Linked DNA regions of Homo sapiens. The protein of the gene in region 4 purifies or fractionates together with the protein of the main gene of each other region. This does not show direct contact. Each region holds a gene or a part of one and is shown on either strand. Other genes may lie near its edges.

The links. Proteins that work in one complex are often made in the same cells at the same time.
Region 1: the proteins of ZUP1 (region 4) and HELZ2 purify together in Homo sapiens (affinity purification with mass spectrometry, with the first as the bait; one large-scale study listed by BioGRID). This does not show direct contact.
Region 2: the proteins of ZUP1 (region 4) and KRT80 purify together in Homo sapiens (affinity purification with mass spectrometry, with the first as the bait; one large-scale study listed by BioGRID). This does not show direct contact.
Region 3: the proteins of ZUP1 (region 4) and TEFM purify together in Homo sapiens (affinity purification with mass spectrometry, with the first as the bait; one large-scale study listed by BioGRID). This does not show direct contact.

The regions. Positions count from the first base shown.
Region 1 is NC_000020.11:63,564,240-63,567,739, reverse strand, and holds part of HELZ2 (3'-5' exoribonuclease HELZ2), read left to right. Parts: exon of another isoform or gene 1-89; coding exon of another isoform or gene 90-112; coding exon 113-896; intron 897-1,286; coding exon 1,287-1,362; intron 1,363-1,508; coding exon 1,509-3,500. UniProt on the Homo sapiens protein: Can degrade highly structured RNAs through its concerted ATP-dependent RNA helicase and 3' to 5' exoribonuclease activities. Shows a strong preference for pyrimidine over purine residues for its nuclease activity.
Region 2 is NC_000012.12:52,189,215-52,193,252, forward strand, and holds the start of KRT80 (keratin, type II cytoskeletal 80), read right to left. Parts: upstream 2,801-4,038; 5' UTR 2,689-2,800; coding exon 2,389-2,688; intron 1-2,388.
Region 3 is NC_000017.11:30,900,863-30,903,238, forward strand, and holds part of TEFM (transcription elongation factor, mitochondrial), read right to left. Parts: intron 1-2,376. UniProt on the Homo sapiens protein: Transcription elongation factor which increases mitochondrial RNA polymerase processivity. Regulates transcription of the mitochondrial genome, including genes important for the oxidative phosphorylation machinery.
Region 4 is NC_000006.12:116,658,767-116,662,266, forward strand, and holds part of ZUP1 (zinc finger-containing ubiquitin peptidase 1), read right to left. Parts: intron 2,081-3,500; coding exon 1,970-2,080; intron 1,604-1,969; exon of another isoform or gene 1,467-1,603; intron 159-1,466; coding exon 37-158; intron 1-36. UniProt on the Homo sapiens protein: Deubiquitinase with endodeubiquitinase activity that specifically interacts with and cleaves 'Lys-63'-linked long polyubiquitin chains. Shows only weak activity against 'Lys-11' and 'Lys-48'-linked chains.

The DNA.
Region 1 (3,500 bases), on a different chromosome or scaffold from region 4:
GCCAGACAAGGGCTGTGCTCAGGGGCAGCTCGGCTGGGCACACAGTAGGTGCTTTAGCGGACAGCACTGAGGCCCCCAGCAAGAAGCCCATGAGCTCCTCCCCCTCCCGCAGTGCCGCCGACATCTACATCCGGGAGTATTTCCACAGCCACGTCAGCGGCGGCCACCCCGAGGCCACTCCTCTCCGTGTGATGTACACGGACCGGCCGCTGAGCCAGACGGACCCAGTCACGCTGCAGTACTGTTGCCTGACCGACGACCGCCAGGCTTTCCGCCCGCCCACACGGGCAGAGCTGGCGCGGCACCGCGTGGTGGTCACCACCACCTCCCAGGCCCGTGAGCTCAGGGTGCCGGTCGGCTTCTTCTCCCACATTCTCATCGATGAGGCGGCCCAGATGCTGGAGTGCGAGGCCCTCACCCCGCTGGCCTATGCCTCGCACGGCACCCGCCTCGTGCTGGCGGGCGACCACATGCAGGTCACACCCCGGCTGTTCAGTGTGGCCAGGGCCCGGGCGGCCGAGCACACGCTGCTGCACCGCCTCTTCCTGTGCTACCAGCAGGAGACTCACGAGGTGGCGCGGCAGAGCCGCCTGGTCTTCCACGAGAACTACCGCTGCACGGACGCCATTGTCAGCTTCATCTCGCGGCACTTCTACGTGGCCAAGGGCAACCCCATCCACGCCAGGGGCAAGGTTCCGCCCCACCCCCGGCACTACCCGCTCATGTTCTGCCACGTGGCGGGCAGCCCAGACCGGGACATGTCCATGGCGTCCTGGCTGAATCTGGCTGAGATTGCGCAGGTCGTCGAGAAGGTGCAGGAGGCCTACAACACCTGGCCCAGCTGCTGGGGCGGCCGCGAGCAGAGGTGCATCTGTGTCGTTTCCCACGGTGCCCAGGTGAGCCCGGCCAGCCCGGGACAGCCCCCGACCGCACCCCTGCTGGGGGAGGGGGAGCTCTCCGGCTGATGGACGAGCCCCCGCCTCAGTTTCCCCATCTGTAAGAGGGGGCTGCAGTATTTGCCTCCCAGGGCTGAGGTGGGGCTCGGCCCCTGAGGTGTCTGGAGCTTGGTGGGGGTGCCGTCTCCTTGTCGGGGGTGGCCCAGTCCTCACTGCGTCCTGCGCTCATCCCCGAGCTTGGTGGGGGTGCCCTCTCCTTGTCGGGGGTGGCCCAGTCCTCACTGCGTCCTGCGCTCATCCCCGAGCTTGGTGGGGGTGCCCTCTCCTTGTCGGGGGTGGCCGAGTCCTCACTGCGTCCAGCACTCATCCCCGGCCCTGCTGCGTCTTCAGGTCAGTGCACTGAGGCAGGAGCTGAGGAGGCGGGACCTAGGCCAGGTGTCTGTCGGCAGTTTTGAGATCCTGCCAGGTGGGTGACCAGCGGGGCCAGGTGCTGCCAGCTGCCCCAGGATACCCCGGGTGGCTCGGCCCACTCCTCAGCCTGGCATCGGCAGGGGTGGGGCTGGTCCCACCGTCTTGCGCACCCAGCCTGACCTGACTGCGTGCCCCCTGCAGGGCGGCAGTTCCGGGTCGTGGTGCTCAGCACTGTGCACACCTGCCAGAGCCTGCTCAGCCCTGGGGCACTGGCCCCTGAGTTCTTCACCGACGCCCGCGTGCTCAACACCGTCCTGACCCGCGCCCAGTCCCAGCTGGTGGTAGTGGGGGACGCCGTGGCCCTCTGCTCCTTCGGGGCCTGCGGCAAGCTCTGGGAGAGCTTCATCCGTGAGTGCGTGGAGCGGCACAGTGTCTGCCCCGAGGGCCTGTCCATGGAGCAGGTCGAGCAGGGTGTGGCGCAGAGACGGCGCTGGCCTCCCCGAGGCACACAGGCTGGGGCAGCGGGGAACTGGGAGGCTGCCCCAGAGCCAGTAGGGGACCTGGCCGAGGAGCAGGCGGCTGTGGTGACGGCCATGGTGAAGGCAGAGCCGGGAGATGAGGCTCTGAGCCCAGCATCCCGTGACATCACGGCAACCACAGCGCAGACGGAGGCTGCGGCAGCACCAGCAGGAGACGCAGTGAAGGAAGACGTGGTGCCCGGGGCCTGTGCGGCAGGAGCGGCTGCTGCAGCGGGCGTGGAGTCCACGGAGGCTGAGGATGCAGAGGCTGACTTCTGGCCGTGGGACGGGGAGCTCAACGCTGACGACGCCATCCTACGGGAGCTTCTGGACGAGAGCCAGAAGGTGATGGTGACCGTCGGGGAGGACGGGCTGCTGGACACTGTCGCCAGGCCCGAGTCCCTGCAGCAGGCCCGGCTGTACGAGAACCTGCCCCCGGCTGCGCTACGGAAGCTGCTGCACGCGGAGCCCGAGCGGTACCGCCACTGCTCTTTCGTGCCAGAGACCTTCGAGCGGGCGTCAGCCATCCCGCTGGACGATGCCTCCTCGGGCCCCATCCAGGTCAGGGGCCGCCTGGACTGTGGGATGGCCTTCGCCGGGGATGAGGTGCTGGTGCAGCTCCTTTCGGGAGACAAGGCGCCCGAGGGGCGGCTTCGGGGCCGCGTGCTGGGCGTGCTGAAGAGGAAGAGGCACGAGCTGGCGTTTGTGTGCCGCATGGACACGTGGGACCCGCGCATCATGGTCCCCATCAATGGCTCCGTGACCAAGATCTTCGTGGCCGAGCTGAAGGACCCATCGCAGGTCCCCATCTACAGCCTCCGGAAGGGCCGGCTGCAGCGTGTGGGGCTTGAGAGGCTCACCGCCGAGGCCCGGCACAGCCGGCTCTTCTGGGTCCAAATTGTCCTGTGGCGGCAAGGCTTCTACTACCCGCTGGGCATCGTCCGGGAGGTGCTGCCTGAGGCCAGCACCTGGGAGCAGGGCCTCCGCATCCTCGGCCTGGAGTACAGCTTGAGGGTGCCCCCGTCGGACCAGGCCACCATCACCAAGGTGCTGCAGAAATACCACACGGAGCTTGGCCGGGTTGCCGGCCGCCGAGAGGACTGCCGCGCCTTCTTGACCTTCACTGTGGACCCCCAGGGCGCCTGCAACCTCGATGATGCCCTCAGTGTCCGAGACCTGGGTCCCAGGTGCGAGGTGGCTGTGCACATCACTGATGTGGCCAGCTTCGTGCCCAGGGACGGGGTGCTGGACGTGGAGGCGCGAAGGCAGGGCGCTGCGTTCTATGCCCCCGGCAGGGAGCCAGTGCCCATGCTGCCGGCCAGCCTCTGCCAGGACGTCCTCAGCCTCCTGCCTGGCCGGGACCGCCTGGCCATCTCCCTGTTCCTCACCATGGAGAAGGCCAGTGGCCAGCTGAAGAGCCTGCGCTTTGCACCCTCCGTGGTCCAGTCTGACCGCCAGCTGTCCTACGAGGAGGCGGAGGAGGTGATCAGGCAGCACCCGGGTGCCGGCCGTGAGCTGCCGGCCCGCCTGGACTCCGTGGACGCCTGCGTCGTGGCCGCGTGCTACTTCTCTCGGCTGCTGCGCCGGCACCGCCTGCGGTCCGACTGCTTCTATGAGCAGCCGGACGAGGACGGCACCCTGGGCTTCCGCGCGGCCCACATCATGGTGAAGGAGT
Region 2 (4,038 bases), on a different chromosome or scaffold from region 4:
GTCCATAATTGCTCAACAGCCCTGCGCCGTACCTCCTGCCCATGAGTCCCTTCACTCCTCTATCCGGCAGGGAGCCTCTCCCCACCTGCTCTCCAGGCTCCTGCCTGGAAGGGGCTAACTGGGTTCTAGCTGCTCCCTGGGCCAGGCCCATTTATTTCATTTTTTATTTAACAGTTATAATATACTTAATATATACCAGATATGTTCTAAATTCTTTTCAAAAATTCTCCCATTTGATTCTAATGAGCCTGCTAACCTAATGTGTGCTGAGGCACAGAGAGGTTAAATAACCTGCCTGAGACAACACAGCTGGTCAGTAGTGGACCGGGATTTAAACCCCACAATGCTGCTCCAGATTTCACATCTTAACCACTTCCTGCTTCCATGTGGGCCCTCACAGCCTCCACAAGGAGGCAAGGAGGGTGGGGCTAACAGATCTTTGCAGAGTTGAAGGGTCAGCTGGGGCCCCTTGGGGCCCTGCAACCAGGGCCCCCAAACGGCCAGTACCCACAGCTCCCTGTGTCCCACCCTGAAGGGCACCCCATCTCAAGGTCAAGGCTAAGGGTTGGGAGGCTCCAATTCTGCTAAAGAACTTCAAGGGCATTGCCCTGGTCTCTGGGCACAGGACCCCAACCCTGAGGGCCTCTTCCCTGTGCTTATATCCTCCCATCCCCATGGCAGGGGCACAGGGTGATATCAGTGCTGGCGTTTGAGGGAGAAAACCACCCATCTGAGCCAAATTCCATAGCTCAGTGAAGCATTCCTTCTAAGGGATTAAACTGGGTTTGGTCAGGAGGTGGCTCTTTAGGGACCTGCCTCCCCAGGGCAGCTGGGCTGCTCTTAGAGGGAGAACCAGCTCAGCAATGCAAGGCTCTGTGCAGTTAGGGCTGGGGGAAGGGATGCTCTGCCTCAGTGGACTGTGGTCCTTCCCCTCTGGGTACCCAGGGGTACCCCAGGTGTGGATGATGAAACTCTGGTCTAGGCACATGAATGGAAGAAGGAAAGAAAAGATTCCCACCACAGAGACCACTGACTTCGTGTCTCAACAGACCTGAGTTCAAATCCAGACTACCATTTGCTGGTTGTGTGATCTTGGGCAAGGCACTTAGCCTTGCTGGTCCTCAGTTTCCTCATCTGCACAGTTGGGAAAATAACAGCCACTGCAGGGTGGCAGTGTGGCTTGAATTTCATTGCATTTGCAATGTTCCTCCAGAGGGCAAGGCATAAGTAGATGCTCAATGCATGTTACTTTCTTCCCTCTGCCCCTCTCTGTGAGCTCCCACCTCATGGGGGAGACCAGCAACATGCAGAGGAACACAGAATCAGAGGCCAAGAGCAGACAAGGACTGAGCCAGGGGCTGAAGGCTGGACCTCTGGTTTACTGGCAGGTTCAGAAATGTACAGTTTTCCTTATCTGTGAAATGGACATAAAATTGTCTTCTCCCATAAGGTTGTTGAGAGAAATACAGATAAACCTGAAAAGCATCAGCACAGTGCCTGGCACATAGTAAGCAATTAACCAATGGCAGCTGGCACTATCATGATTATTCTTGAGGGTGCAGGAGGGTGCAGAGTCAGGAGGAGTTTCTTGGAGAAGATGAGTAAAGAACAGATTTGGGAAGTGGATAACTTCCTTGGGAGCTCCCTTGCCCTGGGAGCAGAGGTGGACACGAGTGCCCCAGACCTGTTGCAGGCCATGGGTAGTGGAGTCTAGGAAGTGTGGTTGTGATGCTGAGGATGCACCTCCCGCAGTCAGGAGGGGCGCAGGGTGCAGGAAGGCCCAACTGGCTTCCCTGTTCTGACTCGAGGCATCGTCCCCTGCATTCCTATCTCCTGACACCTGAGCTGCACCCTCACTTGCAGCAGTCTGGGCAGCAACCTCCTTCCAGCAGCCCCGCACTCACCCTCCACCCTGCTGGCTTTTCTGACTGGGGCAGCTGAGAGAGATGCTGTGGGACCAGAGGCTTGAGGGATAAACAGGAGCGTGGTGCCTGGGAGGCCATCTCCCCTGTCCACTTGCCTCAGAGTAGGACCGCAGAGCATGCCTCCATCAGCCATTCCTGCGAGAGGGCACCCCTGGCCACACTAGGTGGTCCTCCCCAGTCCCTGCCTGGGTGGTGGGTGACCCCAGGTCATGCAGCATGTTATTATCAACACATCCCTCAAAGGCCATCCTGGGGTCCCTTTCTCCCCACATGCCAGGATGGATCAGGGACTTCCCTCCCCCAGCCTCTGCTCAGAGCTAGCCTGTCGGGTTAGCAGTGCCATCTCCCCATTGGCTGGGTGCAGGGGTGGGGCGCGGTGATCGATGCTCAGGGAAACACAGAGCTCAGCTACCGGCCCAGGCCTGGCAGCCCTTCATGTTTGGGACCCCCTACTTGTGCTCACCTTGCCAATTAGGGAGGCAAATTTATCATTGAGGGCCTTCATCTCCTCCTTCTCCTGGTTCTTCAGCTGCTGAACAGCGGGGTCCAACTTGACATCCAGGGGCACCAGCAGGCCGGGGTTCACAGTCACCTTGGAGATAGTGCCAGCCGACCAGCAGCCTGTGAGGCTGCGGGAGCTGAAGCCCGGCCCGGGGGCCCTGCAGCTGTCCCATCCTGAGGTTCCAGGCCGGGGGCTGCCCACCGGGGTCACCTCACAGCTGCTGAGGCTGCTGAAGCCAACCACGCAGGAGCGGCAGGCCATGGTGCCCCCGGCCGGAAGCAGGAGGGCCCAGGGGGGTGAGCGAGTGAGCCTGGGGTTGCGTCGGGTGGCAGGCTCTGGTTGCTCTGGTCACAGCTGGGGCGGGCTGGGGACTGAGGAGCAGACACCTGTTGCACAGTGCTCATTAGCTGCAGGAGGGCGGGACGCCTCCCAGCCTGACCAACCTGTTGGATGATGTGGGTGCTCCCGCCCCTCCCCCAGCAGCATGTAGGTCTCCCTCCCAACAGGTATCTGCATTGCTTAGGGGGCTGGTCCACAGCCCCCTGCCCCAAAGAAAGCAGGCCTAGCTCTGGGGAGGGGGCCAAGGCTGGACTGGCCGGGTGGGTTGGGGGTGGGGAGTTGGCAAAAGGAAGGCCATTCAAGGGGGCAGGAGAGAAGAGAGAGCGCCTCACCGCAGACCTCACTGCATACTTGAAGGCTGACGTATCTGGGCTCACATACTTCTGGAAAAGATGAGTCAAGCATAGGCCTTGAGCTCCCGAGTGTAGGGCAGCTATCCTGGGCACCGTGCCAGCCTGGCACTGGAAAACAGCACTTATTATTTATTTTCTGGCTGCCAAAGAGTCTCCCTGGCTTATCTTCCCCCTTCCTTCTACCCCCTCTCCCTTCCTTCCTTCCTTCACTTTAACTAGCATTGATTGAGGACCTACTATGTACACCCTACTGTCTCAGAGGCTGGGAGGACATAGACGGTCAAGGCCAAGGAGCTCTCAGCATTGGAAATGTGAGACCTGGTTCAAGACTCAGCTGGACTGCTCACCACTCATGTGACCTCAGGCACGTTACTTGACTTTTGTCTTCATTTGTAAAGTGGGGATGAAAACACCCACCTCACAGGAGGTAGCATGTACAAAGCACTTGGTAGAGGACAGGGGACAAAGTTGGCCTCAATCAGTGGTACTGCCTTCCGGGTGCTGAGTCTAGCAGGGGCGATGGGTATGGCTGAATGCAGCTCTGCTCTGGGGCAATGAGAATCCCTGCCTTCCTCACACTCTTTCCTCCCCACTCTTCTTTCTCTTCTCTGCCTCCTTTGACCTCTTTTACACCATCTGTGAAGTAGAAATAGAAAAGACCCCATTTTGCCCCCACAGAGCCTCTGACAGGGCGGCAGAGGCCCACCTGGCCCAGGGCAATGCCTACCTTTCCACAGTTCCTGAGACCCCACTCTCCCACCCCAGGGGGTTACCAGCTCTCCCAGCCCTGCGTCTCCTTTCCTGGCCTGGTGGTCCTGATGTTCTGGCCCTGGTGGCTGGATCTGCATGTCTTTCCTGGACCTGGCTCAATCCTGCTCTGGGTGGCAGGGGCCAGAGCAGAGAGAGGAGTGTGTCTGGG
Region 3 (2,376 bases), on a different chromosome or scaffold from region 4:
CCCAAAGAGCTAGGATTACAGGCATGAGCCACCGTGCCTGGCCAGAAGTGTAAATATTTTAGATGCAAACATAATCTACAAATTCAGAATGCCTAACTAGTTTATGTAATATAAACTTATTTATAGTTTATGAACTGAGAATTATTAAAGAAATGCAGGAGTAATTATTATTTTGTTTGAGATGGAGTCTCGTTCTGTCACCCAGGCTAGAGTGCAGTGGCGCAATCAGCTCACTGCAACATCCACCTCCCAGATTCAAGCAATCCTTCTGCCTCAGCTTCCTGAGTAGCTGGGATTACAGGTACCTGCCACCACACCCAGCTAATTTTTGTATGTTTAGTAGAGACAGGGTTTCACCATGTTGGCCAGGCTGGTCTTGAGCTCCTGACCTCAAGTGATCCACCTGCCTCTGCCTCCCAAAGTGCTGGGATTACAGGTGTGAGCCACCAAGGAGTAATTATTATTAAAAGGTAACCAGCAGCAGTCAGTTTATAGATAAAGGACCTATACTCATTCTCAGCACCTTGCCCAAAGTAGGCATTCAAACTCAAGTGTAGCCAAGGTCTGCACTAGATACTAGGAAACAACAAACGTAACTGTACATTATAAGAAATGCCACCATAAAACTATTGTAGAGAGAAGTGGTCAGGGAAGGTTTACTGGAGGACTAGGAGAATGAGACAGTAAATGGGAAGTTATTTCACCCAGATGTCTGGAAAGATAGGCTGTTTGACATCTCACACTCTGGCAGTAGAATAAAGACTGAATAGGAAAAGGGCAGAGGACAAGGCAGATGTCTATAAAGGTAAGTAACTTGCTTTATCCTGAGTGCTACAGGGGCCACTAAAAAAACAGAATTTTAAGGAATAACATAAGATTTACATTTCAGAAAAATCACTGATGGTGTAAAAGATGGGCTGGAGGGAACTAAAGGTAGGGATCTGTGTTAGGTACCTGTTACAACATGAGAAAGTGTTAAGAATTGAAGACAATGACAGAAGGAAAAGAAACAGATAGTGGGAGCAGAATTAATACATAGGTTTAACGAGGAGTCTAGAATAATTCCAGTTTTATATCAGTGACTGAATGGCATCATTAATGATGACGAAGATAGGAGTCACATGACCTAGGGAAGGTGGGAAGAAATTTTTTTGTTTTGTTTTGGTTTGTTTTTAATGCATTAAGTTTGGGTTGCCTATAGGGCTTCTAAGAGGAGATATATAATAAGTAATTGAATATTTAGATTTTGCTTCCTATCAAGTCTGGGCTGACGATGAAGTACAATGCTATCACCTTTCCCCAACATGGCTCACTTAGTTATATTAACAAACTAATATGTTCTATAGATACAGAGGCAAATAAACAGGAACAATTAGTTGTATACCCATCTCCCTTTCATTGCTAAGGACTGGATAAATATCTTAAAGACAAAATAGTATAGATGCCCAAAATACAGACTTCCTTTTGGTTTTCTTTAGCTAAGTGACTCTCAAGCTTTACTGTGCACAAGCATTACTGAACCAGACTACACACAATACTTCGTCGGCAATCGATTTTTTCTTAAAGGATTTTACTGCATGACTTATATCTCCATAAAAACTGACTTAAAATCCAGCCCCCTAAATAAGATGCAACTCCACTCTAATCTGGGTATAAATAGTTTTGGCCATGAATCTGGATGAGAATCCTCCCTGAAGAATTTGGTTAAAATATGTTCCAGATCAATTGCAGCAGTTCTACTTGGAGTCCATGAGTGGACTTAACAGAATCTGCCAGTCCTCTGAAACTGTGTAGTATTCTGTGTATATGTGCTATATCTTTTTCTATGGGAAGAGGGTCCACAGCTTTCATCAGGTTTTCAAAAGTACCCATATTCCTCAAAAAACGGACCCACTGGTCCAGAAAAAAAATGGTGCTTATGATTTTTATGAGATAATGATTATCAAGCAATGTTACACAGGACATGAGTTCCTCTAAAGTTTAATACTTGAGTGCTGTGGCCGGGCGCAGTGTCTCACACCTGTAATCTCAGCACTTCGGGAGCCCGAGGCAGGTGGATCACGAGGTCAACAGATCAAGACCATCCTGGCGCCAACATGGTAAAACCTCATCTCTACTAAAAATACAAAAATTAGCTGGGCGTGGTGGCATGTGCCTGTAGTTTCAGCTACTCAGGAGGCTGAGGCAGGAGAATCGCTTGAACCTGGGAGGTGGAGGTTGTTGTGAGATCATGCCACTGTACTCCAGCCTGGCGACAGCACAAGACTCTGTCTCAAAAAAAAAAAAAAAAAAAAAATTGGCTGTGTCAAATATTTCTAGTATTTATTTTTTTAAGACAATAGAAAAAGAATTGCTTTTAGAATGGTGTTTTTTTTT
Region 4 (3,500 bases):
AAATCAAAATATTATAATTGTTATTAATCTTTGTACCTGCAGCTTCTGAAATTCTTCTATTTCTTGTCTTGATTCTTCAGATCTCCTCTTTCTGTCTTCTTCTTGCTGAAGCTGGTGAGCCAATTGTAGATCACCAGAACACTGGACTCTATCCATGCCTGTTAGGTATTGTTAATGTTCAGAATAAAATAACTGTTGCAATCAAAGATTATTTATTATTTAATATATGTTTTTAAAATAGAGTAAATGCTGTTATTTGCCATTTATTCATGACTGTGATGATATGGAACTGAGTACAAATTTAGCAAAACTTAGAACTGCTTTGGTAAGGAATAACCTCCATCTAAATGACAACTAACAGTCACTGTTTTTTGTTTTTTGAGACGGAGTTTCGCTCTTATTGCCCAGGCTGGAGTACAATGGTGCGATCTCAGCTCACTGCAACCTCTGCCTGCCAGGTTCAAGTGATTCTCCTGCTGCAGCCTCCTGAGTAGCTGGGATTACAGGTGCCTGCCACCATGCCCAGCTAATTTTTGTATTTTTAGTAGAGATGGAGTTTCGCCATGTTGGTCAGGCTGGTCTCAAACTCCTAACCTCAGGTGATCCACCAGCCTCGGCCTCCCAAAGTGCTGAGATTACAGGCGTGAGCTACCATGCCCAGCCTCACTAAGTGTTTAAAGCTGTGACAAGCACTTTTCATTAATTATATCATTTGATCTTTGTAACAATCTTATGAAGTAGTTATTATTATTTACTGAGGAAACCAGAATTTTAAAACGTTAAGTAACATCCTGCATTGATACTCCTTAACATAACTAAGGCAGATTGATTTTTCAAAGAAATACTAGGGGAGAAAAAAAAAAAAATAAAGAGCATAAAAATACACATTTACAAAGTGCAGGTGTTAGATAATAATTTAATTACAGTTTGGCCCCCAAAAATGGTAAAACTTTGCAACATCTCATCCTGCATCTTCTCTACTCGGTGTCCCCCAGATCCATTTGTCAGTGGCTTCTGGCCACTATCTTGTCTCCTTAACCCCATGACCTGATGGTTTAATTATATCACTGACTATTCTTCCTTTCCTTTCAAAGTTCTCAGCTGCTGCTACATCTTCCTATTTGGTCACCCTTCCATTCTTGGGGATATACAAGTCACACTCAATGTTTAGTGTCCCCTGAGGTTATCTACAGTGATTTACTTAGACCATATCTTTTTCTTATTACCCACTATAGGTTTACACTGTAATATACGTGCTCATACAAAGCCTATCATAAATAAGAGTAAGAATTAGCAGACATTCAGAAACCACCAGAGCAGGGAACTTTTCCATCTTTGCCCCAATAATCTCATATTTGGCTTAGGGTGAGTGAGCAGTAACATTGTCCATGAACACCGATACTGGTACTAGGATCATTGATACTGGACACTAAAGACCTCTGCCTTAACAGAAGCTATCTACGTACCTTAAAAAACTGAAATAGGGTAAAACACAATTGGTTTCTCTTGGGATCTACTTTTTATTTTCGTTCAGTGGGCTTCTAACATTCATATAGGATTTTTCCACTTCTAAGCCACCATAATGATTATTTAAACAATGCCACTATTAAAAAACATAGGGGAGAAAGGAAAACTTTTATAGAATCACAATAAAACCAGTAAGTCATTTAGAAGCTATTCAAGCAGCTCAAGATGCACTGAAAGATGTTTTGGTTATATAGTTCACATTCATTTGTAAAATTTTATGTGCCATATGGCAGTTTTCTAGTTCAACAATTTTCGCTGACCAAATACAATATTCAGATACTTCTAGCTGCTAAAGAAATGGCCTCAACTTGTAAATAAAACACTTTTAAAGGAAAAGATGTATTTTAAAATATTTTTTCCATATCACAAATCTAAAAATTAGATATGTGTCCTAGAAAGTAGAAATTAAATGATATTTTTATCTTCAAACATATAAACATACCTTGCTGAAAGCTGTTTTCTTCCAAATGCAAGTCAACATGTTCCTGAAGAATATGGTAATTTGTACATATGAGCCCACACATAGGACAATCATAGAGTGGTTGATCACAGTCTGTATCAGAGATATAATTAAGTTGTTTTTATTTTTTTATTTTAATTTTTTTCTTTGCTTTTTTTTTTTTTGAGACAGGGTCTCACTCTGTTGCCCAGGCTGGCGTGCAGTGGCACCATCACGGCTCACTGCAGCAATCCTCCCATCTCAGCCTCCCAAGTAGATGGGGCTAAAGGCATGCGCCACCACGCCCAGCTAATTTTTTTTTTTTTAGAGATGAGATCTCACTATGTCGTCCAGGCTGGTCTCAAACTCCTGGACTCAAGTGATCCTTCTGCCTCAGCATCCCAAAGTGCTGGGATTACAGGCATGAGCCACCATGCCCAGCCAAGTTGGTTTTATTTTTATAACTTTTAGATTTTTTCACCCCATGTCAAAGACTGTCTACCACCTATTAACCTTATATAAGTAAAAGCTCTTTGTAGTGGATTTAAAAGCTATTTTTCTACTTCTAGGGTCGAGATAGAAGGCTGAGCATAGCACAAACCTCTCATACCACTCCAAAAAAAAAGGAAATATTAATAATAAATATTCAGATCTGTAGTCAAAACAAGAGAAGCAGAAAGGAAAACCAAAGTGGTAAGTAGGGCCCAGTCTGGATATGGGTTTTTAGGACTAAATTCTCAGCACCCAACAGAGTGGTAAGGTGCTGAACTTAAACATCCAGCATAAAGCTGGGAATTGGGGTAATACTGTCTACACAGGAGCAGGAGATTAAAGAGCTGCATCCATCACATAGCACTGCAGGCAGACAGGTCTAGCTTGCCAAAAACAGAAATTGTTCCTCTATAAGACCAAGACCTAGCAGATAAGGGACATAGAAGAGGGACCCAGAATTGTGCATATACACAGAGTGAAAGCATAGAGCAATCTGTATATGTAAGGCCTGGTCTGAAAGCAGAGACTGTGAACAGCCAGTGTGAAGGAACCATGAAACTGCTTCACAGGGAAGGGATCATATAAAACTCCCATAACAGATGAACACTAAAATTTGAATTGCTAAACTCACTGGGGGCTGCAATGCCAAGAAAAACAGCTAAGAAATCTACAAACTGAAAAAGTTACCTGTGAAGAAATGGAGCTACAGTAATCCATAATAAACTGTAAAATAAGTATGTTCAAAATGCTCACTGAAATAAAGGAGGGAACTGAATCTTTGAAACCAGGACAGAAAGTTACTAAGAAAAAATAGAAAGATGAAGAAAATGAAAATATTAAGATGTAATCATTGGAATAAAAAATTCAATGGCAAAGCTCAAGAGAAAATGAAGTATTAAGTACTCAGAAAATATTTCCAAAAGCAGCAGTAAGAAATAATGGTATACAGCTTCCATAAGTAATGCTGGCGGATGTAAGAGAAGTCTTTCAGCCAGTTCTCTACCATAAAATGCCTTAGAGCCAGAGCCAATGCCAAGGAGGC